Linked DNA regions of Homo sapiens: region 1 is linked to region 2. Evidence: fine-mapped expression QTL. Tissue or cell type: gastroesophageal junction. Region 2 holds a variant in brackets; the other region holds the start of a gene. All regions are shown on one strand. Distances are between the middles of the regions. Region 1 holds the start of ACSBG1 (acyl-CoA synthetase bubblegum family member 1). Region 2 overlaps ACSBG1 (acyl-CoA synthetase bubblegum family member 1).

What was found.
Region 1: it holds the start of ACSBG1, and the variant in region 2 is fine-mapped to the expression of ACSBG1 in gastroesophageal junction (GTEx, PIP above 0.99). The same link has a PIP of 0.9 or more in sigmoid colon, stomach, tibial nerve and transverse colon.

What each region holds. Positions count from the first base shown.
Region 1 is chr15:78,227,642-78,243,801 of GRCh38, forward strand. It overlaps ACSBG1 (acyl-CoA synthetase bubblegum family member 1), which reads right to left and starts at 6,924. Exons shown (of 14, transcript NM_015162.5): 1 at 6,730-6,924. The coding sequence starts at 6,860.
Region 2 is chr15:78,196,050-78,212,209 of GRCh38, forward strand. ACSBG1 (acyl-CoA synthetase bubblegum family member 1) reads right to left here. Exons shown (of 14, transcript NM_015162.5): 2 at 11,953-12,053. Among named protein-coding and RNA genes, the nearest start is that of ACSBG1, 30 kb to the right of the region's middle. RefSeq lists an enhancer at 11,892-12,403. The variant T/C (reference allele first, on the strand shown) is at 9,202.

The sequences.
Region 1 (16,160 bases), 32 kb after region 2:
CAAGAAAATGAGAACATATGTCCACAAAAACACCTTATACAAGAATTTCATAGCAGCTTTACTCATAAAATCCTCAAACTGGAAACAACTCAAATGCCCATCAATAGATTAATGGATAAAAAAAATTGTAGTATAGCCACACAATGGAATTCTACTGAAACGTACAGACGAATGAACTACTGAGACACTTGGCAATACTGATCAATCTCACAAACATTTCGATGAGTGCAAGGAGCCAGACAAGTAACATTCTGTGTGATCCCAAGCATGCCATCCTCAAGAACACCTGGAACATTGGCTGTTCAGAACAGTGGTTACTTATGGGAAAGTGAGGGTGGAGATTGATTAATTGACTAATCTCTTGCCTTAGCCTCCTGAGTAGCTGGGATTATAGATGCATGCACCTCCACACCCAGCTGACATCTAAATTCTTATTTTACAGCTGCTCGGGGCCAGAGTCTGAGCTAGGCCCTAGATGTCCTTCACATGGTCACAACCTTTACAGTTTCCAAAGCACCTTCCCAGCCCTGTTCTAAAGTGTTCCTCACAGGCTCCTTTCCAAGGAGCCAGAATTGTCTGGGTAGGAGGCCAGAGCTGGGATCCAGGGGTCTCTCACAGGACCCAGTGTGAGATAGGGTTTTTTTCTACCACCACTGGCCCTAGATGAAACTGTGCTTTTGCGGAGCTGAAGAGGTAAGTAGTGAGTTCCCCTTCCCTAGAGGTAATCAGGTCAGAGTAGATTGATAATATGTGAATGTTGTAATACAGTGGGTTGGACTTAGTGACCTAAAAAACCTGCTTGCCTTGTACTCTGCCATTCAGGGGCTTGCCTGGAGACAGTGGGTTAGCTTTGGGCCCAGATCCTGACTTCAGGTCAGTTTGAGCTCTGCTGCCCCTGGCTAAAATCTCTGCAGCTCCTGAGAGGACTACCGCTGGCTTGGGCGGACTTGCATTCGGAAGTTATCCAGATCCGTACTCAGAAGTCTAGGACCAGGGTTGGTTTGCCCTAGAGACTCACGCTTTCCATGGATGTGCCTGACCCCTTTGATCTTGGGCTCTTGACACCAGCACCTTGATTTCCTGTGGCTTTTACATGATAGTCCCAAATCTGCCCTGTTCCCACTGGCTTTTAGTCTCTTGAACACTACAAGCTCCATCCCACCTCGGGGCCTTTGCACATGCTGTGCCCATTTCCTAGAAAGTTCTTCCCCTAGCCAACTCCTACTCCTGTTTCATGTCTCAGTTTAAATGTTGCTTTACCAGGAGAGCCTGCACCAACCCTCAAGACCAAGTCAGATCTTCGTTATATTCTATTTTTTTTAATTACCGACATTTTAAAAAAATGTTTGTATTGTGGTAAAATACACATAACATAAAATTTTCCATTTGAAATGTTTTTAAGTGTATAATTCAGTGGCATTGATTATATTCCCTTTTTTTTTTTTTATTCATTCATGGCACCTGTCACAATTACAGTTTAATTGTATAATTATTTGTTAATGTCTGTCTCCCCTGCAAGCATGCAAACTCCTTAAGGTAGAGACTTGTTTTTGTTTTGTTATATTCTTCAGTGCTTAGCGCAATGCCTGATTATTCTACAATAAACAATTTTGAATAAATGAATGCATTCTTAACAAAAACAAAGAAAAACAGTAAAGAAACAAAAACATGAAACAACTGTGTTTTTTACATAATGGGAAGTGGGCAGTGGGAGTGGGAAGAATTTCAGCACTAGAAAGCCCAGATAGTCCATGTTTAAGGACACTTGTGTTCTTTCAGTGACATTCGCCTTACGATTGCCCCTCGTAGGCTAGCACACCCCAGAGAGGCAGAGCGCACTCTCTGTCATCCTGGGAAAGCTCTGTCAGTGGGAACAGCCTTGCTCATGGGGCTTGTAGCAGCCTCCTGCGACCGTTCCACATCCCTGGCTCTTAGGGGGCTCCTCTCTGCACCCAGTCTTTGGGTAGGCAGCGCCGGGAGAGTCAGCTAGGAGCCCAGAGTGAGTGTGGTCACTTCAGAGCCTGACAGCCCTCCCTGGGCCAGATGGGACCCTTGGAGCTCCCAAGTCCTGGCCTCCTGCCTCCACCTCACCCCTAGTCCAGCCTGTACTCACTGCTGCTAGATTCACAAACCCCAAACCAGGCTCTCCCCAGGCTTCTGCTGCTTGCACCCCTCCCAGGGTTCCTGTCTGCCTCCTTCTTTGAGCCTGGCTGCCCTTAGTCTGGCCACGTCAGCCTCTCTAGGCCCAGGAGTTAGCCGGTCCCCAACCTGACCAGTCTCATGGCCACCCGTAACATCTTCACAATCATGCCTTTGGTCAGCACAGCGCCCTGCTTGCCATCCGGGCATCCACAGCCTTTCAAACACAGGATGGACTGTCCTCTTCTGAGGTTCCTTCCAAGCCCTTCCTCCACAATGGGCTTCCTTAGGCTCAGGGAGACCGGTGTCTCCACTGGACAGAGGGCTTCCCAGGGTCAGGACCCAGGCCCTGGGCAGGCTCAAGGGGTGTCCCTGATGGAGGGCATGGTCTACAGCCACAGCCTCAAGGGCACAGAACACAAGCTGCCAGAGCAGGGCCAGTGTTAGCTCAGACCCCACGGGTTTTGCCTCTCCTGGCCCTGGCCTGGCTGTTTCCTCCGGACACCTGCCCCAGTCACTGGGATCCAGCCCTGCAACTTGTGTGGCAGGGAAGGGAACTCTCGTGGGTCAGGCCAGGGTGCAAGCCCTCCTCGGGCTCTCAGCCTCCCCTTTCTTCCACCTCCTGTCTTCCCCTCTGCAACACTGGGAAGCAGGGGGAAGATAAGCCCCTCTCAGGCTATGGAGGAATGCAGACCCGCCTTTCCCCAGGAGCAGCCACCATGGCCACAAGGTCAGGGCAAACGGGCAGGACTGAGATAGAGCCCTTCTGATATGGTCTGGCTGTGTCCCCACCCAAATCTCATCTGGAATTCCCATGTGTTGTGAGACAGACCAGGTGGGAGGTAATTGCATCATGGGGGCAGGTCCTTCCCGTGCTGTTCTCGTTACAGTAAGTCGCACAAGATCTGAGGATTATTATAAGGGGGAGTTTTTCTGCTCAAGCTCTCGTCTTGTCTGCTGCCATGTGAGATGTGCCTTTCGTCTTCTGCCATGATTGTAAGGCCACCTCAGCCACATGGAACTGTAAGTCCAATAAACTTCTTTCTTTTGTAAACTTCCCCGTCTCAGGTATGTCTTTATCAGCAGCGGGAAAACAGACTAATACACCTTCCCTCCTGGAGTTGGCCCAGAGGAGCAGAGAAGCAGAAAGGGGCATCACAATGGTCACAACAATGATCTCTCTGCCTTATTTATCTAGTTTTTGAGACAGGGTCTTGCTGTGTCACCCAGGTGGAGTGCAGTGGTGCCATCATGGCTTGACCTCCCGGGCTCAATTGATTTTCCCACGTCAGCCTTCTGAGTAGCTGGGACCACAGGTATGTGCCACCACATCTGGCTAATTTTTTTTTCTTTTTTTGAGACGGAGTTTTATTCTTGTTGCCCAGGCTGGAGTGCAATGGCACGATCTCAGCTCACGGCAACCTCTGCCTCCCAGATTCAAGCAGTTCTCCTGCCTCAGCCTCTCAAGTAGCTGGGATTATAGGCATGCGCCACCACGCCTGGCTAATTTTTTTTTTTTTGTATTTTTTTAGTAGAGACGGGGTTTCTCCATGTGGGTCAGGCTGGTCTCGAACTCCTGACCTCAGGTGATCTGCCCACCTCGGCCTCCCAAAGTACGGGGATTACAGGTGTGAGCCACTGTGCTCAGCTTTTTTGTATTTTTTTAAGCAAATTTTTGTATTTTTTGTACAGACAGGGTTTCAACATGTTACCCAGGCTGGTCTCGAACTCCTGGGCTTAAACAATCCACCCATTTTGTCCTACCAAAGTGCCAGGATTACAGGTGTGAGCCACTGTGCCTAGCCTATTTTTTATTTTTATTATTTTTTTGAGACAGAGTCTTGCCCTGTAGTCCAGGCTAGAGTACAGTGGTTAATAGCTCATTGCAGCCTCACACTCCTGGGCTCAAGCGATCCTCCCACCTCAGCCTCCTGAGTAGGTGGGACTACAGGTGCACACTATCATGCCTGGCCAATTTTTAAATTTTTAGCAGAGACAAGGTCTTGCTTTGTTGCCCAGACTGGTCTTGAACTCCTGCACTCAAGCAATCTTCCTTCCTTGGCCTCCTAAAGTGCTAGAATTACAGGCATGAGCCACTGCACCTGGCTCTCTCTGACTTTAGAACAATGTTTTACAAGAATTAAGTTCTTTTCTCACAGCTGCTCTGCAAGAATGTCAGAGCAGGTTTAGCTTCCCTGTTTGACAGATGGGGAAACTGAGGCTCAGAGAAGGTATCTTGCCAAGGGTCACAGAATGGGTTAGGAGCAGAGCTGGACTGGAACCCAAGGCATGTGACCTCCAGCCTGCTGCTAAGAGTGTTGCTATGAGAGTTACTATGCCTGTGATGGGTAACTCTTATGCTTTGAAAACATTTTCATACACATTAGCTGATGGAATCCACCCAATTTTTCTGCAATGTCAATGAAGTTCAGGCGTTGTATATTTATTTGTACAGAGGATGCTATTGAGGCTCAGAAAGGTTAAACAATGTATCCAAAGTCACTCAGCAAGAAAGTAGTAGAACTGACACTCCAACTCTTGGGTTTTTAGCCTTTCTCTTTCCCTACGGGGTCCCAAGACCCATTTACCCTTTCAGGAGGGAGTCCTTCTCTGCACAAGCCTAGGGTTCTGCCTCAAGTTTGCCTACTTTCCTTCAGTGATGTCTGCAAAACAAGCCCAGTCCTCTGTGAGCTTTGCAGGGCACACAGGACCCTCTGCCACCCCTTTTCACCACAGGCCTGAGACACAGGCTCCTGTGGCCCTGAGCCCCACTTGGCCCCTCACTCACAGGGAGCAGAAGACCCTGAGATCCTGCAGACCTTGATTTTGTTTTCAAAGACTCCCCTGGCCCTGGCTGTCCTCATGCCTGTCTACCCCTGCTCTGGGCACATTTATTTCTTTTTCTTCTTTTTTTTTTTTTTGAGAAGGACTTTTGCTCTCGTGGCCCAGGCTGGAGTGCAGTGGCACGATCTTGACTCACTGCAATTTCCACCTCCCGGGTTCAAGCAATTCTCCTGCCTCAGCCTCCTGAGTAGCTGGGATTACAGGCACGTACCACCACCTGGCTGTTTGTATTTTTAGTAGAGACAGAGTTTCATCACATTGGGCAGGCTGGTCTCAGAACTCCTGACCTTGGGTGATCCACCCGACTCAGCCTCCCAAAGTGCTGGGATTACAGGCATGAGCCATCATGCATGGCCTCTGGACATATTTCGATGTGCTCCTCTGAGCATCTCGCCTGGCCTTCCTGCTCTCTGAGCCCACAGACCCCAGGGAGGAGGGGAGGTGCCAGGACACCGGGGCCCAGAGGAGATCCTGAATCTGCCCTTGGGTGAGGAAGTCAGTCCAGCTTTCTTCCAGGGGCCCTTGACCCTCTGTGCACCTGACCTATGCCCAGGGAGGGGCTTGCCCTCATGCTCTTGGAGGCTTTGCAGGGAAGAGTCCCTGCTTCTGGAAGAACAGGAGTCCACTTTGGATTAGCAGGGTTCTCTGGAGACCCAGGGCAGGGCCCAGATGCCAGCCCTCGGAGGGGCCTCTGCATCTCTGAGGCGCATTAACATCTGTTCCCATTTCCCTCTATCTTCCTTCCCCATAACCTTCCATCAGGACAGGGGCTGTAGTCTTGGTAGCTCAGACACTGGCAATTCCTCCCCATTACTACAGAGGACTTGGACCCTGGTATTTAGCCCCTGTCCTCCCCAGTTCTATGCTTCCGCCACCCAGACCTCTCCCATCCCCAAACTTCCTGTCTTGCTTTGTTAGGTCGTTCTCTCTGCCCACTGCTCTTGGCTCCACTCTGACCGTCAAGGTCCATCTCAGGCGCCCCAGTTAGAAACCTCCTTCTCTCTGCCCCTTCGCCTGCGCCCCTCCTGGACACAAATCACAGATGTTGGGGTCCTGGAGTTCCGTGTGTGTGCGTGTGCGCGTGCGCCTGCCTTCTTCCTGCCTTCTGGCCAGGGCATCCCAGGGCTGGGACTGAGTCTCATCTTCTCAGGATCCCCTACTCCCTGGATGGACAGGGCCTGGGCCAGGGTGGGCATTGGTGAATGCCTGATACGTTGAATCCACTTCCTCTAAATCACAGATTACTGGAATATATACAGTGGAAGGGCTTTAGGGAAACCTCAGCCACTGCACTCATATTCAGACAGGGAAGCTACAGCCCACGGAGGGCAAAGGCACTTGCCAAGGTCACGCAGCAAACTGGAGCGGGAACCTCTGGGTCCCCACCAAAACTTATCTGTCTTTGACCCCCGCAGGCAAAAGTCCCCCTTGAGGAGACAGGGAAACATTCTTGACTGAAAAATTCCTCCTCCATCCAACTGAGATCCAACTGGTCTCCAACTGCAGCCCCAGCTCATACCCCTGGGATGTGCCTCATTCTTTGATGAGCCTTTCTTAGCCATGCTAAGTAGCCCTCCAAATGACCAGTTCTTCCATCTTACGGATCGCCCAGATCCTTCCCTTCATTTCCCAGGTGAAGAAACTGAGGCTCAGAGAGAGAAGCAGCTTGCCCAAGTTCACACAGCAGAGCAAAGTCTAGAACTCGGCCCACAGGTGCAGTGTGCAGAAACCCAACCAATGACTTACCTGGTTTTCAATTTTTCTTGGGTGGTCCTCACAATCATGTCCTGCCGGCTCTCCTGTGGGGTCTCTCTGCTGTCCAGCATGCTGGGGTCCCCGTGTGGGCAGCCGTATCCAGCTCCAGAATTGCGTGGCATCTGCCTCGGGCTTCCACTGAAGACAGCTCAGTCACCCACTGAGAGAGGCTAGCCTTGAGTGAGCAGTGGGGGTGGGCATGGGGCAGGGGAGGCGGCAACTAGAGTGACCCAAAGAGGCTCATTTCCTCTCTATTTTTAGAAGCTCAAAAAAAATTGCTCCTCAGTGAAGTTTCTCAGAATTAAAACTTTCCTTTTCTTTGTGGTTTTGTTTCTCTCAAGATGAGGAGAATTTCAATGAAGCCAGTGTTCTTTTTGATGCAAATCCGCTCCGCTTCTCCCAGGAGGTCTGGCCAATGGGCTCAGGGCTTCTGGGCCCCCAGAAAACCTCCTCACTGGCTTTAAAAGGTCATAGTGGTTCTCAGCACAAATCCAGACCCAGATCCTGAAGTGGCTGCTACCCCTGGCTGCATACACTCTGCAACCTTGACTTGCGGTCTGCCGAATGCTGCCCTGGGAGGGATCTCACCCACTCAGTCCCCCTCCCCCAGGTCCTGCATGGAGGCTGGAGACCCAAGGAGGGAGCCCACCCCGGGGGAAGGAAGGAGACATTTCCAACACTGAGACCACGCCACATGGTCTATAGAAGCAGTTGCACTGAAGACATGATAGAGGCAACCGAGGAATGTGACTTTCCAGGGACACATGAATAGAAGCCTGGATCTGTCCCTTCTTCTAAAGGAAAGAAGCATGTTAAGGGGGGCGGGGGGGTTTCAGGCAGCCATAAAGAGATGGGAAATTCACACAGGACAAGGCCTTTTTCTGAATACCAAAAGTCTCCCCTCTAAGACCATGTATTCATTCCCCAGGGCTGCTGTAACAAAGTTCCACAAACTGGATAGCTTCAAACAACAGAAATGTATTCTCCCACGGCTCTGGAGGCCAGAAGTTGGAAATGAAGATGTGCGCAGGGCCACACTCCCTCTGGGGGCTGTGGGCAGACTCTTTCTTTGCTTCTCTCCCAGCTGCTGGGGGTCACTGGCCATCCTGGGTGTTCCTTGGCTTGCATGTGCATCTCTCCAGCCTCTGCCTCTGTCCTCACGTGGCTGTCTTTCCTCTGTGTCTATGCCTTAGTACATTTTCTGTTGCTATCACTGAATACCTCAGACTGGGTAATTCATAACGAAAATAGGTCGGGTGCGGAGGCTCATGCCTTTAATCCCAGCACTTTGGGAAGCCAAGGTGGGAGGATTGCTTGAGCGTAGGAGTTCAAGACCATCCTGGGCAACATAGTAAGACTTTGTCTCTTCAAAAAATAAAACAGAATTAGCTGGGTGCCACGCCGTGGTGTGCACCTGTGGTCCCAGCCACTTGGGAGGCTGAGGTGGGATGATCACTCAAGCCTGGGAGGTTGAGACTGTAGTGAGCCATGATTGCACCACTGCACTCCAGCCTGGGCAACCAGAGTGAGACCCTGCCTCAAAAATAAAACAAACAAACAAATTTAAAAAAACACCAAAACACACACACACACACACACACACACACACACACACAAAGAAATTGATTTCTTAAAGCTCTAGAGGCTGGAAGTCCAATATTAAGGTGCCAGCATCTGGTGAGGGCTTTCTTGCTACATCATAACGTGGAGGGCATCACATGGTGAGAGGGCAAGAGCGTGGTGCCAGCTCAGGTCTTTCTTCTCTTATAAAGTTTCCAGTTTCAACATGGGACCCCGCCCTGATGACCTTGCCTAACCCTAATTACCTCCCAAGGGCTCAACTTCCAATCAACATATGAATTTTGAGGTTAAGTTTCCAACATATGAAATTTGTTGGGAATTTTCCCACCATAGCAGTCTATGTTCCTATTTTCTCTTCTTACATGGACACCAGTCATTGGAGTAGGGCCTTCCCTGATGCCAAAGAACCTCATCTTAACTATATCTGCAGAGACCCTATTTTCAAACAAGATCACATTCTGAGGCTCTGGGTAGACATGAATTTGCTGGGGGACGCAATTAAAATCCATATACATTGTGTACAGGAGGTGTTAGTGGGGATACCTATGAGATGTCCCCAAGAAGAAATAGGTCCAGTTGGGCCACAGGTGATGCTGTCTGGTGAAGGCAGGTGACTGAGAAAAAGCTGGGCTGCCTTCTAACAAACTCAGGGCACAGGCCACAGGCCCCCAAATGCTGCCTTCCTAATGCTGTTGAAGGTACACTGAGCAGGTCGTCTGGGGTCTAGCTGCAAGGCCTGAATCTCCCACTGACACGCCCTCAACCACGATCTTGGGCAGATCTCGGCCCTCTCCTGGCCTCAGTTTTAACTGCTTGAATCATGAGGGTGATGGCCTGAGGTGGGCCAAAGTGGCCACCAGCTCCAACTGGACGTGAGAAGGTGATGGGGAGTCCTTTGCCCATGGGCTGATTGGAGGGATCGAATGAGTCACCACTGTAAGTGACAAGTCAGTGTCTCCCCACCCGAGGAGAATCATAATCAGAGAAAAAGACATAGAATGCTCAGCTCTGAAGTTCAAAAGCCTTGGTCAATATGAAAGCCTGGGAAGGTTCGGAAAAATGTGTAAGTTGTTCATTCCCAACTCCCCTTCCTTCCCCATCCCTCAGATTCTTATAGATCCAGGGAACCAGGAAGGGGAAGAGAGTCCAAACAGAAGCAAGGCCCTGGGGAGGGCCTTAAGAAGACCTCCCTTGGGCAGATCTTCCAGGTCTGAGCATATCAGGGACCTGAGGTGGCCCAAGAAAGCGACAGGGCCCCAGAGTGCTCAGCGCGGGCCACAGAGAAAAGATGGCTTCAAGGAACCAAAAGCAAAAAGGCCCGGCACACCCTCTCGCCAGGGCAGGCAGTGAACTGAGGGTCAGGTGGCTGCTGGAGGAGAAAGTTGGTGGGCTGGCAACAGAGGCTGATAGGAACAAGGTCATTCTGCAGTCACTGCGAGGAGGGCTGACCCCACCTGGGAACCAGGACAAAGGCAATATATCAACAGAAGCTCAAGGCTGGGACATGGTGCTGAAAAGGTCAGGCTGTAGTGGAGTCTGATTTGGCTGAACTTTTTAAATGGTTCATTTCATTTTGAAAAATAAATACAAGCAATATGCCAGTTATGTCCAGATTCCCTCTCTACTCTCTCCCCTGGTTCTGTCCCCAGAGCTGCCCTGTGTGAGCCTCCCTTGGGCTCCCGGCCTCTGGCCTCTGGTTGTCAGGCCAATGCCAGGTGGTGGCAGGACAGCAGAAGGTAGAGAGAAAGAAAGGTTGGAGTTTTTATTCCTCTCCTTCCCTCCCGGCTGGCCACACTTTTGGCAGCAGCAGCCCCTCCAGCCAGCTCTGGCCTCAGGGGGAACAGTTCCTCCCCAGCTCCTTCAGGTCAGAAGTGTCTACCTCCCTGCAGCTGCCTCACCATCCCCTGTGGCTCCCTTAACACTGTCCTCACCTGTCCCTTCATTTTCTTCACCTACCACTTTTAAGGGGCCATCTCTTGCAGAAAGAACCCTGATTGATACAGTGGAACATGAAAATGTACAAAGGGGACTAACTGCTTGATGGGTATGGGGTCTCCTTTTGGGGTGATGAACATGTTTTGAATCTAGATAGAGATGATGGTTGCACAGCACCGTGAATGTACTAAATGCCACTGAATTGTACACTTTTTTTTTTTGAGACAGGATCTCATTCTGTTGCTTAGGCTGGAACGCAGTGGTGCGACCGTAGCTCGCTGCAGCCTCAAACTCCCAGGCTCCAGTGATCCTCCCACCTCAGCCTCCTGAGTGGCTGGGGCTACAGGCATGTATCACCATGCCTGGCTAATTTTTAAATTTTTTTTGGAGAGACAAGGTCTTGCTATGTTTCCCAGGCTAGTCTTGAACTCCTAGCCTCAAAGGATCCTCCTGTCTCAGCCTCCCAAGGTACTGGGATTATAGGTGTGAGCCACCATGCCCAGCCATGAATCCTACACTTTAAAATGGTGAATTTAATGTTATGTGAATTTCACCTCAATACAATGTTTTAAAAAGTACAAAGGGCTTCATAGTAAAAATTAAATTTTCCTCCCACTTTTCTGTCCCTCTCCCCACCATCCTTCACTCATTTCTTTTCTCCAGAGCCACCACTGTTAAAAATTTCTTTTTTGCATCATTCTAGAAATATCTTGGATATATACAAATGCTAACATATGGCATACACAGTTTCGTGTCTTCTTATACTTGACAACATTTGCTGGAGAACTTTTCATATTTTTGCCTGGAGAACTTCCTGGTTCTCTTTTTGTGGGGTAGGTACAGCATTCCATGGAAGGGCTGGCCCGAGATGCATTTCAACAGCTCTGTAGGATGAACATTTAGGTTGTTTTCAGTCTTTTGCTGTTACAGATGAAGCTGTGATGAATAATCTTATCCTTGCGTGGTTCGTACTTGAGCTAGTCTATCTCTAGGATAAATTCCTAGAAATGGGACGCTAGGACTTGACTAAGTTTAAACTTGAAAATGACCGAGTTTTTGCGAAACTCTTATTGGGTCGGGGGGTCCTTGCTCCCAGAGCTCCCAAGATGGTGGCGGGCCGCTTCCAAGATGGTGGCAAGCCTTGTGTTCTCTGACCTGGGGTTCTTGGCCTCATGGATTCCAAGGAATGGAATCTTGGGCCATGTGGTGAGTGTTATCGCTCTATTAGAAGCCGTGGATCACGGAAGAGAACCGTGGAACCCAGTGACTAGCGTTCAGCTGGATTAGGACAAACCTGGGCACCTAGCTGTGCAGGAACAATGGCAAGCCTTTAGCCGGATCGGGAGCGGCAATGGGTGCCTCATTGGATCAGGAGCACAGTGGACACCCTGCCGGATCCAGACGGATGGCAGTCAGCAGCGGGTCTGCGACAGCGGCAAACAGCAGTGGTGGACGGCGAGCAAAAGCTCAGCTCGAGCGGTAACAAACATGGACCAGAAGAGAATTGCAAGATTTTTTTTTTTTTTTTTTGAGATGGAGTCTTGCTCTGTCGCCCAGGCTGGAGTGCAGTGGTGTGACCTAGGCTCACTGCAAGCTCCACCTCCTCAGGTTCACACCATTCTCCAACTCAGCCTCCCGAGTAGCTGGGACTACAGGAGCCCGCCACCATGCCCAGCTAATTTTTTTGTATTTTTATTAGTGACTGGGTTTCACCATGTCAGCCAGGATGGTCTCGATCTCCTGACCTCGTGATCTGCCCGCCTCAGGCTCCCAAAGTGCTGGGATTACAGGCGTAAGCCACCGTGCCCCACCAGTTGCAAGATTTAGTAGAGTGAAAACAGAGCTCCCATACAAAGGGAGGAGACCCAAAGTGGGTAGCCAGTTGCCAGCTGGAATGCCTGGGTTTATATCCCGATTGTCGTTCCTCCTGCTGTGCTCTCAGGCAATAGATGATTGGCTATTTCTTTACCTCCTGTTTTTGCCTAATTAGCATTTTAATGAGCTCTCTTTATTACCTGATTGGTCAGGTATGAGCTAAGTTGCAAGCCCCGTGTTTAAAGGTGGATGTGGCCATCTTCCCAGCTAGGCTTAGGGATTCTCAGTCGGCCTAGGAAATCCAGCTGGTCCTGTCTCTCAAAACCAACAGATTAAATGTCCTGCCATTAGGAGGAAGGGTGGAGAGCTGTAAAAAAAATTTTTTTTCCATTGAGTTACAGAAAATAAAACTGCAGTTTTGCCCACCTGAGTTTGTCGATTGAGGAAGTTTGTGCCTGCTATGCGTGTAAGGCCAAATGCCTCTGCACCAGCCTCTACTGTCATCGAAGTGATTGCTGCCCTCACTGGTTTTCAACTTCAAGAATTGGCTGGGTGTGGTGGCTCATGCCTAGCACTTTGGGAAGCTGAGGCAGGTTGACTGCCTGAGCTCAGGAGTTCGAGACCAGCCTGGGCAACACAGTGAAACCCCATCTCTACTAAAATACAAAAAATTAGCTGGCGTGGTGCTGTGCACCTGTAATCCCAGCTACTCAGGAGGCTGAGGCAGGAGAATTGCTAGAAGCCGGGAGGCGGAAGTTGCAGTGAGCCAAGATCACGCCACTGCACTCCAGCCTGGGCAACAGAGTGAGACTCCATCTCTTAAAAAAAAAAAAAAAAAAAATCAAGACCACTATTTTCCAATCAATTTCTTTACCACCTTCATTAGTTTTGCCATATTTGGTTTCCCCAGGGGTATAGTACATTATTTACTATTTTTCAACTCCATTTTATAATTTAAAAATGAAATAGCTTTATTCTAAGCAATTGAAGAACTTGTTATATAAATATATACAGATATTTCCCAATGCATGTTGAAATTAACATGAAACTACCTTTTCTTCTTTCTTTTTGAGAGATTGAGGGGGGGGTCTCATCATGTTGCTCGGGCTGGTCTTGAACTCCTGGGGTCAAGCAATCAGCCTGCCTCCCACAACAAAGAGATATTAAGTGTTTTGTTTTTGTTTTTAAAAGCCTTTAAAAAGGCTTGGGTGGGAGGGTCATTGCTGTATGTTTTCAGCATTAGCTTTTCTGGGCCACTTTTTTGTTATCATGCGTATGTATTACCAGGAGACGATTTTTTTTTTCTTTTTAAATTTCAAAATACTGCACCTGGGGCTCTGGATTGAGGCCTCGCAGTCGTCTCTGGGTGCAGGACGAGCAGGAGAACAATGGGCCTCTGCTGACCCCTGCTGGCCAGAGCGCCTCCCACCCACCCAGGTCTCCACAGGACTGGGATCTTGCGCCACTGCCTCCATCCCCAGAAACAGCCGTCCTTCCTCCCCTGCCCCCAGAAGGCCTCCGGCAGCCACCACAGTGTGCTCTGGACATCGAGTCTGGGGCCCGGCTGGGAGACCCTTGTGCTCCAGAGGGCGCTGAGGCTCTGGGCTGCATTTGTGTCCCCTCTGGCCCTGTCTACATCGAGTGGGTGGGGTGTGAGTCCTGGGATCAGAGTATCCTCCAGCTCTAGATAAAACCCGACTTTGGAAGGCCAAGGTGGGTGGATGACCTGAGGTCAGGAGTTCGAGACCGGTCTGACCAACATGGTAAAGCCCTGTCTCTACTAAAAATACAAAAATAAGCCAGGCGTGGTGGTGGGTGCCTGTAGTCCAAGCTACTCGGGAGGCTGAGGCAGGAGAATTGCTTGAACCCAGGCGGTGGAGGTTGCAGTGAGCCAAGGTTGCACCACTGCACTCCAGCCTGGGTGACAGAGACTCTGTCTCAAAAATAAATAAAATAAAATAGATAAAACCCAGAGATTTTTGGAGATTCAAACTCCTCTCCCAGGGACTCACATTCTCTGAGCTATGGGTCACCAGGGCAGAGCTTTCCTGAGAGGAGGGGCAGAAGAACGTAGCACATAGAGGATTCTAACCTGCCAGGACTGAGCTGGGAGTGGGCAATGGAGACCACGGAGGATGGAGGCCTTTGGAGGATTAGGGAAGGAGGAGGAAGGGAGGGAACCCAGATGTCTGGGCAACCTCTGCAGAGGAGGCACCTTCTTTTCTCACCTGGAAAGACCTGGATCAAGGGCCACGTGACCCGTATTCTCCAGATCTGCACCATATAGGGCAGGGGTGGAACACACTGGTTTTTGGATTTGCACCATGACCCAAGCCAAGTCACCTCTCTGAGTCTCAGTTTCCTCCTCTGTAAAATGGAGAGTCCTGATTACCAGGGGCAGAACCCCTAACTGAAACCAGCAGAGACAAAAAGGACCACGAGATGATGGGTGCAATGCAGGACAGGGTGAATAACTAAACACAAAGGGGCGAGGGGTGCTCTGCCACTGGGAAGGATCCCCCTTCTCCACCTCCCTTATGAGGGAGTGAATCTCATGGCTCACTCTGCACTGGCTCCCTCCTGTGGAGAGACCGGGGATAGGAAGACAGCCGTAAGTTCCCCGGCTTTCTCCCCTCAACAGAATGGTCCAAAGTGCAGCACACACAACCTGTCTGGGTCACCTACATGACATAGCAAAGAGCTATGTTTCCTTGTGCAATGAAGAACAGCTCAGAAATGCAACTACCTTCTATTTATTTGCTTTCCTTCCTTTTCTGCCTCATGTCTTTTTTTTTTCCCTGATTCTTGTGCCCTAGAATTCCACTTCCAATAAAGCCTTAGGACATAAACTTTGCCTTGGGCTCTGTTTTCTAGAGCATCTGGGATGAGATAGATGCTTATAAGCTGTTTGACCTTGGATACATGACTTAACCTCTCTGTGCTTCAGTTTTCTTATTTGTAAAATGGAGTCATGATTCCTAGTTCATGAGGTTGCAGTGAGTTAAGTCTACTGAAGGCACTTAGAGTGGTATGTAAACATCCAGTTAGAATTCATTGCCAGGTGCAGGGGCCTACACTTGTAATCCTGGCACTTTGAGAGGCTGAGGGGGGATTGCTTGAGTCCAGGAGCTTGAGACCAGCCTAGAGACCTTGTCTCTACAAAAAAAAAAAAAAAAAAATTAGTTGGGCATGGTGGCACATGCCAATAATCCCAGCTACTCAGGAGGCTGAAGCGGGGAGGACTGCTTGAGCCTGGGAGTTTTAGGCTGCAGTGGGCCAAGATTGTGGCACTGCACTCAGCCTGAATGACAGAGCAAGACCCCGTCTCAAAAAAAAAAAAAAAAGAAAACAGAAAAAAAAAGTTTTCGCTGTTTTTAGTATCCTCGGGCCTGAGAATGCTCTGGACATTGGGACAGAGGCAGCTCATTGGCAAAAAAAATGGAGATTTGAATGACTCTCCAGGGATCTCATCACGACAGAGCCACGCAGCTGAGGATGTCTGTTGCTACCCAGGCTGCACCTTCCACGCTGGCTGCCCCTGACCTTAGGCAGTGGCCTGAGGCTGGGGAAGGAACACTGGATTGAGAGTCAACAGGACTTGGTTCCAGCTTGCATGACCCTGGGGGAAGCCTCCACATCGCAGAAGCCCAGTTTCCTCACCTGTAAATGACTACATTGATTGAACAGAAACCCAGTGAGCACTTAGCCCAGATGGGGTCTGTGAATGTCACACCTGGAAGGGCTTAGAAACACTTCTAGCATTCTGCCTTCCTTTTAGATGAGAAAACTGGGGCCCTGAGAGAGGAAATAACCTGGCCAGGGCGAGGGAGAGGACTTGTGGATTAGACAGGGACAGAGGAGGTGTGGCAGGGGGAGGGGATATGCAAATTCCTTTCTCAGCGCCTGAGCACTAGCCTGGGAATACCTGGGAATAACTTCCTCTGGCACAGACCCCCAACATCAGGGACCTCAGAAAGCGGTATCTTTTCTGAATCTGGGGACCCCTCCAGGTTCGGCTTGGGCCAGCGGATGTGGCTGGGAATGGGAAGCCAAGGCCCAGGAGTCCTGGCAAACGGCCCAGACAGCCAGAA
Region 2 (16,160 bases):
ACCCAAACGGGATACATGGCAGCCTGCAGGAAATGCAGGCGGGACAGGGGAGGGTGCCAGAGAGGTGCTTGGCACCTCTGTATGGCAGAGGTTAAGACCTTCTGGGATGGATGCCCATGCCACTGGCCATGAGGGAGCCCTGAGCCTTCAGGTAGTGGCGTGAGTCAAGGGCCACTAGGCCCCGTCCAATCACTCCTCAGACCTCTCCAAGCCTTGCCCCATATCCCGGGATGCTAGCCTGGTGGACCCCGCTGATCTGCCTCTTCAGAGCCTCTAACTGTTGCATTTTGCTAAAGTCCATGCCCAGACCAGAAAGTCAGGTACACCTGGGTTCAAAAACCTCAATTCTGCCTCTGTGTGCTGTTTGACCTAACAAACCATTCTCTCAGCTGCATCTTCATCACCTGCAAATGTGAGGGGTTGATGAGGACATGGGGACACAGAAGCCCTCATACAGTGCTGGTGGGAATGAGATGGGACAGCCATGTGGGAAAACAGGTTAGCAGTTTCTTAAAGAGTTAAACATAAAACTACAGTACGACCCAACAACTCCACTCTTAGGTATCTACCCAAGAGAAATAAAAACACATGTCCCCACGAAGACTTACACACAGATGTTCTTCACAGCATTGTTTATGAGTCAAAAAATTGAAACAACCCAAATGTCCACTGACTGGTAAATGAAAAACAAAATGTGGTCAGAGAGTAGAATGCTATTCAGCTCTGAAAAGGAACAAAGTGGCCTGGTGCAGTGGCTCGCACCTGTAAACATGTGAGGAGACTGAGGCGGGGTATCACTTGAGCCCAGGAGTTCAAGACCAGCCTGGGCAACATAGTGAGACCCTATCTCTAAAAAAAAAAAAAATTAGCAGGGCATGGTGTTGTGTGCCTGTATTCCCAGCTACTTGGGAGGCTGAGGTGGGAGGATTGTTTGAGTATGGGAGGTCAAGGCTGCAGTGAGCCATGATTGCACCACTGCACTCCAGCCTGGACAACGGAGTGAGACCCAGCCTCAGAAAAAAAATTAAATCAAATTAAATAATAAATTAAAAAAATATAAAAAGGAATAAAGTATTGATAGAGGCTACAACATGGATGAAACTCAAAAACATGTTCAGTGAAAGAAGCCAGGTGCGAAAAAGGAAAGGCAGAAAAGATAGAAAGCAGATTCGTGTTTGCCCCGGGCTGGAGGTGGGAGTGGGGAGTGACCGTGGAATAGGCACAAGAGATCTTTTTGGGGTGAAGGAAATGTCCCAACATTGGATTGTGGGGATGTTTTGCAACTCTGTAAATTTGCTAAAAATAATCAAATTGTGCACTTAAAATGGGTAAATTTCATGGCATATAAATTATAGCTCAATAAAGCTACTTAAGAAAAACAGAGAGAGGGCCCGCATGGTGGCTTACGCCTGTAATCCTAGCACTTTGGGAGGCCAAAGTGGGCGGATCACTTGAGGCCGGGAGTTAAAGACCAGCCTGAGCAACATGGTGAAACCCTGTCTCTACTAAAAATACAAAAATTTGCTGGTGGTGGTGGTGCACATCTGTAATCCCAACTACTTGGGAAGCTGAGGCATGAGAATTGCTTGAACCCGGGAGGTGGAGGTTGCAGTGAGCTGAGATCGCACCACTGCCCTCCAGCCTGGGCGATAGAGCAAGACTCTGTCTTTAAAAAAAAAAAAAAAAAAAAAAAATAGAATGTTGACCCCCCACAAAGTGGTGCAAGAATCTTGTGCAATGGCCCTCAGAGCATGCCCAGGGCCTGGCATCCAGTTGCCTCTCAGTGGTTATTAGTTCTCTTCCCTCCCCTGGCACAGATTCCTCCTACGCCTGGACTACAGAAAAGGTGACTTTCTCCCGTGGGCACATCTAGAAGCTCACGCTCCTCTGTATTCACCTGTTCACCCAGGTTGCCAAGAAGAGCAGAGGTGAGTCTTGGGATCTCCAAGCCAAACGTTTTAACTTGAGCATTTATAATCTCTTTTTTCTTTCCTTTTTTTTGACATGGAGTCTCACTCACTATATTGCCCAGGCTGGAGTGCAGTGGTGCGATCTGGGCTCCTTGCAACCTCCACCTCCTGGGTTCAAGCAATTCTTCTGTCTCAGCCTCCCGAGTAGCTGGGACTACAGGCATGCACCACCATGTCTGGCTAATTTTTTTTGTATTTTTTGGTGGAGACAGGGTTTCACTGTGTTGGCCAGGCTGGTCTCGAACTCCTGGCCTCAAGTGATTGACCTGCCTTGGCCTCCCAAAGTGCTGGGATTACAGGCGTGAGCCACCGTGCCCAGCCACTATAATCTCTTTTTTTGTTTTTGAGACAAAGTCTCACTCTGTCGCCCAGGCTGGAATGCAGTGGCACGATCTTGGCTCACTGCAACCTCTGCCTCCTGGGTTCAAGTGATTCTCCTGCCTCAGCCTCCCAAGTAGCTGGGATTACAGGTGCCCGCCACCATGCCTGGCTAATTTTTGCATTTTTTAGTAGAGATGGCGTTTCGCCATGTTGGCCAGGCTGGTCTTGAACTCCTGACCTCAGGTGATCTGCCTGCCTCGGCCTCCCAAAGTGCTGGGATTACAGGCATGAGCCACCGTGCCTGGCCTATAATCTCTTTTTAATGACAAAAATATGCATACTTGTTCCAAGAAATATGAAACAATTTAGCAGTCTATGACAGAAAAAGTGATAGGCCCTCTTTCTACAAATATTCATACAAGGACTTAGGTTTTATTTTGTTGTTGCAATTGCTTTTTATGAAAAATAAGGTGGCAGGGGAGAGAGATCATCTTATTAATGTATTAATCACAGGTAGCAAACCCAAAATGCTCATGGGACCAGGCGGGTAGTGTATCAGCATCATAGTAAATAATGTATAGTAATACATAATAAATGAATGAAGTGGCCCAGGATTTGCAAATGAAACCAGAGGCAGTCTTCTTTTCCAGGAAGAAATGAGCTCCCTCTCATTTTCCTTTAGACACATGGCCCTTGGAGTCCACCTTTTGTTTCTCTGCTTTTTATAGAGACATGGAACAGCGCAATATTTTTCTTTTCTTTTCTTTTCTTTCTTTCTTTTTCCTTCCTTCCTTCCTTCTTTTTTTGAGACAGGGTCTCATTCTGTCACCCAGGGCTCAAAAGATCCTCCAGTCTTAGCCTCCTGAGTAGCTGAGACCACAGATGCACAGCACTAAGCCCAGCTAATTTTTTTTGTATTTTTGGTAGAGACGTGGGGGTTAGCCATGTTGCCCAGGCTGGTATCGAACTCCTGAGTTCAAACGATCCTCCAGCCTTGGCCTCCCAAAGTGCTAGGATTACAGGCATGAGCCACTGTGCCTGGCCATATTTTTCTATTACGCAAAAAACTACAGGCCAAGTGCAGTGGCTCACGCTTGTAATCACAGCACTTTGGGAGGCCAAGGCAGGATTGCTTGAGGCCAAAAGTTGCAGACAGCTTGAACAATAGAGAGACCTTGTCTCTACAAAAAGTAGATCTTATCTCTACAAAAATTTATCCAGGTGTGTGAAGTATGTAAAGTAACGCATATGCTAATTAGATCAATTTAGCCATTCCACAAAGTAACGGGGACCACAGGTGCATGCCACCATTCCCAGCTTTTTTTTTTTTTTTTCTAGTAGAGACAAGGTCTTGCTATGTTGCCCAGGCTGGTCTTGAACTCCTGGTCTCAAGCAATCCTCCTACCTTGACCTCCCAAAGTGCTGGGATTACAGGTGTGAGCCACTGCGTCCAGCCAAATATATGTTTTAAATCATATGAATCAAATCAAACCTAGCCATTAGCCAAATCATCCATCTTTAACGTTGGTGATATTAACATGCCTGCCTCATTGTGTGCATGCTGTGTGGCTGCGTTGTACTCCACGGTTGGGCCCTCTCATAATTTACTCCGCCACTCTCCACTGAAGGACGCTCAAGTGGTATCCAGCCTCCAGCCCTCCTTCTCGGTTTAGATTATTAGAAGGAGGTTTACCGGATCAAGAGAAAAGAGTGTTTAAAATCTTGATGGACATTTTGGACAGAATTCTTCACCTAATTTCTCCTCTCCCATCAGCTACATGGTTCTGTCTTTTTCCTGTTTCCTCTTCCATGGAGCCTGTGCTTTTGTGTCAGGTCATCTCATATCCTTCCTGGAAGGAGGGAATGAGGCATGGGAAGGGAAGGAAGGTTCATAGGTCTGCAATGTCAGTCTCCTATTAGTCCAGCTGTTTCATGACAGGGACAAGAGCCCTAGCTCTGGAGGACCCCTTGTCACCCTTGGGAAGGGTGACAAGGCCTCCTGGCCAGCTGCATGACCCAGCCCTTTCTCTGCACAAGCTCAGCTGAGCCAGCAGGACCTGTCTGAGCCCCTAGACCAGCTGGAAGAGGAGATTCTGGTGGGAAGGAGGCTGCCCCTGCCCTCGCTGAGGCCCCGATCATCTCTTGCTTACTGCTTACTGAGCCCCTGCCATGCGCCATGCCATTCTTTGCCCATCACCACTGTCACCTCCCAACTAAAGAGTTGAGTGGCAGAGCTGGCATCCAAACCCCCACAGTTCCATACCCAAGTCTGCTGTTCCCACAGGGGTGCTGCCTCTCACGGTGAACTTCAAGGAAGACCCCGGCACCACATCTCCCATCTCCTCTGGGAAAGGACTATCATGCCTCCCGCCAAGTCCTGTGACAGGTTCAGGCTGGGTGACCTTGGGCAGCCATGACCTCCAGCCACCGGCCTTTTCCCACACTCCTGAGACTCCCAGAGTGACCTTGCTAAATCCAGGTCTGACCTGCTCAAAAGCCCCCGATGGCTCTCATTGACCACAGGGAGACGTCTATACCAGGGCTTCTAAGGCAGGCCCTCCCCAAGGGGCTCGCTTACCTTTCCCAGCCTCAACATACACCTTTCCTTACAGCCAACCTGAACTGCTCCCAGTTCCCTTTGGTTCCCCGTCTCTGTGCCTTTGCCTGTGCTGCGACTCTGCCTGCAATGCCCTTCCCTCCATCACATGCCCACACTTTACCGCTCTTCAAGGACCACGTGTTGCCTCCTCACTAAAGACTCCCATCCTGAGCCTAATGGAGGATGGGGTCATGGTCGGGGCTGCCTCTCCCACCACCCTGGAGCTCTGGAAGTCAGATTCCCTCCTCTCTGGGTCCTGGCTACCAGCAGCAACCCGGCCTCCAGCAGAGGCCAGGGGCCTCTTCTTTGGGGAAGAATGAGCTGAACTCTGCCCCACCCTAGTCCCAGGAGGGCTGGAGACCCAGTGACTGTGTGTCTAGAGGACTCAGGCCTTCATCTCTCCCCCACCTCACCCTTGCCCCCCAGGGAGGCCAATGAGGACACAGGACACATTGTGCTTAAGCACAGAGACAGGCTCACAGAGCGGGTATCTACCCAAGCAGGACACGCCAGCCTCCTTTCCCATCTTGCACCCCTGAGAGACTTAGGTAGGGCCTGCCCTGCTCATTGTCCTTCTGACCTGGGCCCACCACAGCTCAGTGGCCTCAGCCTTGGGTGCCAGCTGCCAAGCTCACTCCTGCCCTTCAGAGCTGAAAGAAGGGAAGACAGATGCATCTTCTAGCCTGGGGTGTGCAATCCTCCCCCTTCTTCTCATGTCCATGTGTTCCCACCCGTGGGCTCTGCTCACACCGTGTCCTCTGCCAATCTCCCTCTCTATAGAAGAAGAAGTCTCTGGACAATGAGTTAGAAGGGCTGGGCCTGGGTTTTAGCTACTGGCAAGGTACGCCAAATGCAAGGCAGAACGGTCAGAAGGGGTTGCCCACAGCTGTTGAGCCTTGGACATTGGCCCTGCGACCCCGACAACATGCATGAGACCGGAGCTGCAAGCCCTGGCCAGAGGCTCATGAAGTTGCTGTGCAGGAGCACTGCTCAGTGGGAGTGCTCCCTGTAGGTGGTGACAGAAAATTAGAGTCTCTCCTGCAGAGTTTGGAAGCCACTTGCAGAGATCAGGATGGCTGAGCTGAGACAATGGGGTGGTGGAAGTCACAGCATAGTGAGTGGAGTGCACAGAAGCAGGTGGCGGCAGTAGGGCAGGGAGAAACTGAATTGCAGCAATGCTGGTTGTCACCTGAGCAGGGAGCCAGGAAGGTCCATTCTTCCCATTCCCTGCTAGGCTTTTTCTTTTTACTTTTATGTTCTTTCCTATTATTATTATTATTATTACTATTTGAGACAGAGTCTTGCTCTGTCACCAGGCTGGAGTGCTGTGGCACTATCTCGGCTCACTGCAACCCCTGCCTCCTGGGTTCAAGCGATTCCCCCGCCTCAGCCTCCCGAGTAGCTGGGACTACAGGTGCGTGACACCACGCCCAGCTAATTTTTTGTATTTTAGTAGAGACGGGGTATCACTATGTTGGCCAGGCTGGTCTCGATCTCCTGACCTCATGATCTGCCCACCTCAGCCTCCCAAAGTGGTAGGATTACAGGCGTGAGCCACCACTCCCGGCCTCCTCCTAGCCTCTTTCTAAGCTTCTTTTCTTCCCTGCCTTTCCTCACAATAACCCACATCTCCTGAAGCCATCTGAACTCATCTCCTAACCTCCCTCTCTCCCTAGGTTTCTCCTAAAAGGAAAGAACTTGAAGCAGCAAAAATACAATCAGGCAAACAGACAATATCCACTGTCTGGAAGGTGCAGTGCAGTGCAGAACATGAACTGGTACAGCTTTGTTGGGGGCAACTGGCAATATATATCCAAAGGCTTGAAACAGAAACATCCTTGCACTTAGCAATCATACTTTCTGGAAGTTACTCAAGGGAAGCAATCAGAGACATGTACAGCGAGAATGTGGAGATGGATATCCATACAGCAACGTGTCTATTAGCAAAGCCATTGGAAACAACCCGAATGTCCAACAGGGGACTGGTCTCTTATTCAGTTCATTATGGTAGAGCCGTATCATGGATTCCCATGCAGCCATTAAAATAAAGTACAAAAAGAATATTTAATGACATATGGAAATGTTCACAGTATAACATCAAGTGAAAAGGGGAGCAAAAAAGGGCATACAGAAATGCATAGACCACACTGAAAAGATCTGTATCGAGAGACTTAGGAAATCAGGATGACTGCCAGTCCTTAAAGTAGTCCTCATCTCCCCTTTGTGCTCCACCAACAGGGCACAACCATCAGCTCTGTCCCATGCCCAAACTAAGATCAGTGCAACCATCAGCTCTGTCCCATGCCCAAACTAAGATCACTGCTGTAGTAACAGCCAAGAACGGGGCCAGGACACAATCAAGGTCTCTGTTGCCCAGCAAGGCACCCAGATCCCAACAGGAGCTGACTCCAAAAGGCAACCAACGACTAGATCTACAGCGCAGTGGAGAACCCAGAAAGCTCGCTGCCTGCTGCCAATGCAGCACCACCAGCACACTGCCCGCCCACCAAGTGCCAAGTCAGCTGAGAGCTGGGGGGTAGGCTTTCCCAGGCAAGGTTGGCACTCTCTGCCGCCTCCCTCTCCCTCTGCCGCTTCCTCCCTCTGCCACTTGTCTTGGCCTGACCCTGGCTTGTATCTTATCAATCCACCCTTTATGCTGGGGGCCACTGGGCAGGCAGGGAGCTGTGTTCTCTGGGGTTCTGGAATAAAGGCGTCTAAAGAGCAAAGGCAGTCACTCAATTAGCCGGGAAGGAAAACAACACAAGAGCAGAGAGCGGGAGGCTGGGGCTGTTTTCCGTGGTCTGTGGGAAAGGCTGCAGGAAAGTAGCTTCTTGTGCAGATGGAGGAATAACTGGTGTTGAGGAAGAGGTGGGTCTCAGGCCTAGGACAGATCTCTCTCCGAGAACGGTCCTGCAGGGCACTGACCCCAGAGGCCCTCCTCCAAAGGCCAGGCAGGAACCAGCCCCAGGAGGGCCCCTCTCTCCAACACGGGACCCTGTGCTGAGGGCCAGCCCAATGCAAGGCACTCTCAGGGATACAGAAGAGGAAGAGGCCACATTGGCCCCAGGACATGAAGAGAGATAAGGACAAGACCTAGCACAGAAGGGTCTGTCAGCTGTTCAGTAGTTCCTCTGTGTCTGAGGGGAGAGGGCCCCTGCAGCTGCCACTCCCGGCCTTCTCAATGGGGACTGAAGAGCTCTGAGTTCTGGCCACCACAGCAGAATGACCCTGGGCCTCAGTTTCCCCATCTGAATTACAATTGGGGTAGACAAGATGTTCTCTATACGCTTCTCCACAGTCATTGTTTTAGCTTTTTAAAATTGCCTCTAGGATTCCACTTGTCCAGGCCTGGACCACCGGGGTAAGGGACCTGAGATGGGCTTTACCTGCCCCTGTAAAGGTGAGCATGCTCAGGAGATGTGCAGGAGACCTCAGGCTGGGTCTCCATCCACTGGAGAGAAGCCGGGTCTGAGCAAGAACCCGGGCATCCCAGCCAGAAGCCCTGGGCTGGCCTGCCCCAGACCTGCCCCACATGGCAGGGTCCTAGGAGGGGACACCCAGGCAGTGTCTGAGGCTGTCCAGGCAGGGGCTGGGTGGGTGCCTTGACCCCTGCGGAAAATGTTTCTCTGAGGACCCCCAGAGGTTCCACTCATTTTGGCTGGCAGGGCCGGGATTACCTGTTTCCATATCATGGAGAAGGAATCACTGGCACTCATTTCCTCTGACCCTTGGAAAGCCTTTCCTGCCGGCCCCCATCGGAGGCTGCGGGGACAGGCAGGTCCTCTTGCCTTCCACTGTCCCAACGGCCTCCTCCTGCTACCCGGCCTCAAACTGTGAGCTTCTTGAGGACAAGCATTGTATCAGGCCTCTTTCTGGCTCCCTAGCGCATAGCTCCAGCCTGAAACACCACCCCTTGCAACATTTGGGAAGGGTGGGAGTGACGAACCGAGGGAGGCCCAGCAAATCCCTTGACCCACAAAGGGCTTCACTGGACTGGAGACAAGTGGGGCTGAGCACCTAGCTTCCCAATTGCAAAAGCTCCTTAGTGGGTGTGGGAGTTTCCTAGGGAGAAAGCGGGTGGGGAGCCAGCCCTGGCCAGCACCTCCAGCAGTTTCATCCCCAGCAGCTGCTCACCCCGGGTGCCCTCCCCTCTCTGTGGTCTCGATGCTGCCCTTCTCCTGCTGGGCTTCAAGCTCTATCTAGAAAGGCCTAGAAAGTAAAAAGTAATGTGTCTCCAGGGCCCAGTACAAGGCTGCCTTTGTGTGAAGGTCAGATTCCAGTGTCTCGGTGGCCTGACTTCGCACAGCTGCT[T/C]CCTGGGAGTACAGCCATCTGGAGAGCTCAGAGCTCAGCCTGGGGACCAGAGCTCAGGACCTCAAACTTTTTGGGACCTCAAAGAGATCTGGGAGCCTCCGAGGGCTCCAGAGTGAACCCTGATTCCTGTGTACAAGACTCAAAGAGCTCCCCAGAGGGGCTGCCAGTGTCTGCAGTTAGATGAAAGGGAGGCAGGGGCTGGCCAGACTTGTGGGGGCCAGACCTGGAAGACCAGACTGCATGATGCTATCTAGGTCCCAAAGAGGCAGTGTGGCCAGTTAAGAGTTCCACCTCTTACCAGCTGTGTGACTCTGAGAAAATCACTAACCCTCTCTGAGCTCCATTTCCTCTACCAAATAGGAGTGATAGATTTGTTTTCCCTGCTACTGATATGAAGATAAAAGGAAAGAATACAAGAAAGTCCCTTAGCACAGGGCTTGATTCTTCTTATTCAGGGCACAACTGTGTGAGGAAGGAGGACTTTCAGCTCTCCTAATCCCACGAATCCCTCCTCCCCAGCAGTCTTTGATAGGGATAGTTGGCTTTTCCCAATCTTATCAAAAATGCTTTGTGAAAGGGCAGCTTCAAGACCCCTCCCAATCTGTGCCAGCCCCAATCCCCCTTCTTGTACAGAGACTAGAGCCCAGGGCTCCCAAGCTTCTAGGGAGTCAATGAGAAAGAGTCCAAGCTCCGCTCCAGGCCTGGCACGCGGTGGACACGCCATCCATGAGAATCTGGAACTCACCCACGCTGTAGCGCAGAGGCTCCCCCTCCACCCCCAAGGACACCAGGGCTGCAGGACAGGGTGCTGGGCAGAGCATGGCCCCCGAGCCAGGTCTGTGGGAGCCCATGATGCCTGCTTAGCACTGCCCTGGGAAGCACCTGGGGTCCCTCGGTGGCCTCCGCTCTGGGCGCCTGCTGACAACCATGGTGCCTCCTTAGCCCCTCCCAAACCTCCCCTTTCTCTTTGTCACCAGCCCTGGAAGCTGAACTCCCAAGGGCAGAGCACTCAGTCCAGACCTCTAGGCCTAGAGGGAGCTTGAGGTTCTGAGGACAGCCACAGGTCCTTCTAATGCAAGAGGCCCACCTTGCCCCCACAGCTCCCAGAGGGAGCCCTCCTTCCTCAGCCTGTCCCTGCCCTTTACAGAGGACCTGTCTGCCCTCAGACTGGGGGTTCTTTGAGGGCAGGAAAGAAGATTGTCCGTCTCAGTCTCCTTCACAGCCCAGTGCACAGGGTGGAGGATCCTGGGGCACGCCCACCTTGGCCGTCCCTGCCAGTTTCCCAAAGTCCTGATACACTAGATCGTGATGGCCTTGTCACCTCCCTTACAGTTGCCCACCCAGGCCCTGCCTCGCCATTAAACTCAGGGCCTTCTCCCTGTCCCTCATCTGGCCCCTGGCTGCTCAGATGCCTCTACTCCAGCCCTGTCTGAAGGGACCCTCTCTGGGACTCCCTACCCTGCTTGTTTAAAACCTGCCCATGCTGCGTGTCTACTGCTGCACGGCTGCCAGACGACAGCCATTCAGATGAAGCCATTGAGGCCCGCAGGGCTGGGGATTATGTGTTTCTCCCTCGGGATGCCAGATGCTTTTCTGGGGCTCCAAGGGACACGGAGCCTCCCCCACAAATGGCTCCCTTCCTGCCCCTTGAATTGCAGGAATGCCTGTGCCATCACTCATACTCAGGACTTGCTGAGCTCCACGGTTTTGCTGTGGCCCAGGCCCCTGGTGCCAACACCTGCTCTTTGAGCACCCCAGAGAAGGGATTATAAAGTCTGGGGTGTCTGAGCCTAAGCCAGTTGGTGGGACCTGCCCTAGGTGGCTCAGCAAGTCAGCAAGATGCCTTGGAATCCTGGGAGGATGAACGTGGGAGGCTCCCGGGACCAAGCTGTCCCTGTTCCTGGCCTCTCTCCGGTGTCTTTCAAACCATTCTCAGAAACCAGTTGGTCCTCTTCTTGGCCCAGTCCCTTCTCCTTTATCTCTGAGGTGAGGGCAGGGGGCATGAGAGGAAACACCCACCCCCACAGCTCAGGCCAGATCCCTGCCAAAGCCACCCAAGACACTCGGCCTGGGAGAGCGGCAGCTGGTCTGGCAGCAGTGACCCTCTGTGCTGGGTATCTATTGTTTTCTTTTTGTTTTTAAATTTCTGTTGTTGCTACAATGTTGTTGTGCAGCCAATAAAAGTGCACAAAAGATGTATTATTATTATTATTATCATTTTGATGACTCTTCAGAGTCAGAGTAAATAACTCTGCCTTCCTTAAGGCACAATTATTTGATGGTGGAGATCAAGAAGATAACATGTAATGTTTCAAGCCTCCAAAACAAACCTTTCTAGCCTGCACCCGTCTGCCTGCCCCTTGCCCCAGTTAACCAGGCCAAAAATCCCAAGGCATTGCTTATCTGGGCTTTCTCCTGTCCCTCAGCAACCCTTTGCTGGAGCCCCAAGTTCCCAAGGCCTGGGCCCAGATGATGTCCTACCTGTCTCTCTATCTCTGGCCTCTCTTCTTCCCAGCTTTCTTGAAGAAGAAATCTCCCCATCCCTCATTCCTTTCCATCACGCCTGGCCCTGATGGCAGCCATGAAGGAAGGGGCTTGGTGGGGTCCCTGGGAGCGTGGAACCAGCAAGATCCCCAGCTGCTCCTTCCCGCAGTTCTGTGTGGTGGTCCCCCACACCACCCACCCCTCCAGCACACCCAGCACAGCACAGTTTCCCGCCCTGCCCCACCCTACCACCCCCAGCTGGCTTACCTGGAGCATCCCACTGGGCATTATTCACCTTCTCTGGCACTGAGAGCTCGAGAGCATGGTTCAGGGACTCTTTGGAGAGTGGCTGCCTGTCAGTCAGTGAGCTGGGGTGGTGAGGGGACCAGGAAAAACATTCATTAGAACGTGGGGGACCGGCCTGGGCTTAGGGACTCCGGCCTGGCACACATCTCAGCACCCCCAGGGGGACACTGGCACCTCTGTCTCCTGCAAATGCTGGGGCCATCCACAGAGGAGAACCCAGTGGGAGTCAGGGGACAAGACCTCAGTGGTTGTAGGGGCTGACCCTGCCCCCACCCAGCCTCCCTCCAGGCTCTAAGGGCTCAGGAGAAAGGGAATTCAAGGCCTTCTGTGCTCTACTTTGTGGTGTGACCCTGGGCAAGTTCATGCCTCTCTCGGGGTCTCAGCACCCCACCTGGATGAGGACGGGGCTAAGGTCCGCACTGGAGGATTCTGAATGCCACTCCTGGAGAGGGCAGACTTTTGGGGCGGGGGTTCCCCCATCTGTCACTCCCTGTACCCACCAGTCCCCAGCCATGCCCAGAAACTGAGTGGAGCTGCAGGTACTCATAGGGCTCTCAGGGGTCCTATTCCGGCCCCCCAGTGAGGGCCTCCCCTCTTCCATGTGCTTGTGGGTGCACCATGCACCCCATGTCTGTTCACTCCATGGAGAAGACAGACATAGACGGGTCCAGGGAGACCTGAGGCCCAGGGCCTGACCCAGATCCCCCTCGCCTCCCAGGCTCGGTGACCCTGGCTAAAGGGTCTCCCCTTCTGGCCAACCCAAGTTTCATGGGTTTCTGGGCTTTCATTATCCTTTCAGCCTGACTGCCCTTCAGCACCATTTTTCCTCAGAGTTCACCTGGCCAGACCTCAACCTCCTAGATGGCTGAGCAGCTGGATTTCAGTACACACTTTAGGACTGCAACAGGATTATAGAACTCCAGAGACACATTTCACAGTCAACAACTACGTAAACAGAATCCACTGGAGTTGTGCAGCATGCAACCTGTGCAGCTGGTCATGGTGTCCCTGAGGGTAGGACCCTGGCTCCAGGGAGCCCTGTCTGTCAGTTAGGGTGGGGCTAGCCCCATCCCTGCCCAGTTCCCAGGAAGCCGGGCCAATTACCTGCTTCTCACATTCAGCCTCACTCCTTGTCGGCACTGCAGGTTCCGAACAAAACTAAGTTTGTGAACACACCTAGGCCCACCTGGCAGCCATCTGCTTAAGAACCTGAGATAGGTTTTAAAGCGAAAGATATCAGAAGGTTATGAAGGGAGGGGGACGGGGAGAAGGGGGATGACTGGGGAACCAAGGTGGCGCCGTTCTTGCGAAATTTGTGAGCAAGGCCTGGGCCACAGGCCTGGAGCAGCCCTTCCATTGCTATGGCGACCCACTCCAGGGAGGTTGTGGAAAAACTGAAGAGATGGCAACGTGTGCTTCCGGGGCGAGGCCTCCTGTGCCGGGCAGACAGAGGCGTGTGAATGCTGCAGAACTCGTCCTACTGACTTTGGATCCTTGGTTACAGCTCTCTGGGATAGCCAGGTAGAAGCTGCCTCCACTTTGGGCCGCAATGTTACCAAATGGCCCCTGAGCTCTGGGTTCAGGCAGCGACGGCAAACGAGGGACACGTACACTGCTAGGCTCAGAGGCCTGCACTGTGATCATCTGGGGAAGACTGTGAACTTGGTTGATGTCCCTGCCCCATCTCAGCCTGTGTTCTCAGAGGACGGTGGACAGCACCCCAGGTTAGAGTTAGCAGCTCTAATCAGCCTCTGAGATCACCAGCTGGGCGGCCACCTCCACATTAGCCAGGCAGGAGGCTGTCCTTGGCTGTAATGTCCCACCATCTGAACTGCTTCCTCACAAACAAACCTGTTTTTAAATCCTCCTAATCAAAAGGTATGGGCAGCACTTCTCTCCCCACAGAAAATTAGTGTAAACTGGTTCTGGTTTTAAAATAGCTACACAAAGACTAAATGAAAAGACAGCCACCAAAGGAAGCCAAGGGTCAAGCGTACTTATCGTGATTAGAACCTTCTGTTTATAGGGACGATGAGGCTGTTGGCAGCACCTTCTTGCTGCGGGTGGGTGCCTTTTCCTGGAGGGGCAGCACCCAGTGCAGTGTCAAATTTCTTGTTGCTCAGACACTGATCTTGTCCAGCAACCATGGTCAATGAGAGGGTGGACCGTGGCCCTCTGCCAGCATCAGTTTAACAAGAACACCTTCCTTATCCCTGTGGCTGGCTCAAGGCACTGATTCAACTCTCTATGCCCTATGCTTACAGAATTTGGGGCGCATGATTAAAAGAATGTCAAAACCTAATTCTCCAAATGAATTAAGCCTGATCTTTTCCTCACTAGGGGCTTTGAGAGGTGGTCCCTTTGAAGAGATGTCATCCGAAATAGAATGTGCTAAACCTCCAGTAACTTCCTGCTCACACAGAGTTATAACCAGTAACAGGCTTTCCTGACCTGACTTGTCACACAGAAACAAGTGAAACTGCTCGGGCCATCTGCCTCTCCTCATTGTGAGTGCTGTCTCACACTCGTTGTTGTTCGTAATGGTCGTCTTTCAGTTTTTATTTTGTATGTATGTATTTATTTATATTTTGCAGACAGGGCCTTGCTCTGTTACCCAGGCTGGAGTGCAGGGGCACAATCACCACTCACTGCAACCTCAAACTCCTAGGCTCAAGCAATCCTCTCATCTCAGCTTCCTGAGTAGCTGGGACTACAGGACAGCACCACAAAACCTGGCTAATTTTTGTATTTTTTGTAGAGACAGGGTCTTGCTATGTTGCCAGGCCTGGTCTCCAACTCCTGGGCTCAAGCGATCCTCTAGCCTTGGCCTCCTAAAGTACTGGGATTATAGGCGCAAGTCACCATGCTCGGCCATTTTTTAGTTTTTAATCCTCTCCTCTGTGACTAGCAGTCACTTCTTGCTACTTTCAGTGTGCTGGCTTCTAGCAATTCATCTCACTCCTACATTGCCATTTCTTTTTGTAGCAGAATAGAAAACAAAACAGCCAAGCTCGTTAGAACTTAGGTTACATTGGGGGACAAGTTCCACAATGGAACCTATCATGTTTTCTTTGAAGAAAAGAAGCTAAGGTTTGGGAAGCTGCCCCTACTCTGTCTTAACTCCTCAAAAGCATTTTGGGCCCTTCTCCTGATTCTTGCTGCTATTCCAGGAAGGACAGGTGGCTGTAAATGATCCTACAGGTGAGTTGATATTACTGTCATTGTGATCATCATGAGCACGCCGAAGGCGATTAACATATTATTCCTGTCATTCTGGAAAATTATGCTCCTTCTGGAAGGCAATACTCCAGAGGTTGGCGGAAGTCACCTAACATGATTAATGACAATAATGGTGGAAGAACGGCCTGAGGAGGCTGACTGGCTTCTGTCTGCATTTTGAATTCCCAGGAGGAAGAAGAGCTTACAAGGTTGGCCCTTTTCACTCGTCTTTGAGGACGAGAACAAGGATTCATTCTCTGACCTCAGCTCACATAAGCACACTTTAAGCTCATCGCCTTGCTCTCCTTTCACAGAAAACAAAAACACTTTATCAGCAGCTACCCAGCAGCATGGGAACAAGAAAACAAAGGGCGTGTTTGAGCAAATATGATGTAAGATGTGTGGGGGGCAGAGGAGCCTGGGAGCGTCTGCACTGCGCCTTTCTCTTAACCATCTCTTGGTGGATTGGTGTCTCCTTACTCCTTCTACCTTGCCAGAGGAGCTGATGGGAACCATTTGCACACAGAGCCTCCCAAGCCTCCTTCAACTCCTCCTGCAGGAAGCCCTCCTAGATTTCCCCAACACCCTCTCACCCCTGTGGCCCTTGGATACTCAGGTTTGGGCTTTGATGGTCACACATGGCTTGACAGCTGGGGCCGCTTCTGATTCAGCTCTGTCCTCTGGCCATGAGTACTTACTGTTGGAGCTCAGTACATGTTGGTTGGACCTAAACCTTCTCAAGTTGTCACTATGTGTGTGACACATAAGTTGAGGAGGACCCTCATTTCCCATGTGAACGCTTCACGGATGAGGATCCGTTTCCCATTTATTTCTGTTACCCTTTCTTCTCACTCAGCCTTCAGCAGCCAGGCCACTGTTGTGTATGAAGTAGGTGCTCAATGAACGCTTTCTTGAAACAGGATAGCATCAAAGTTCACCAGTCTGTCTGC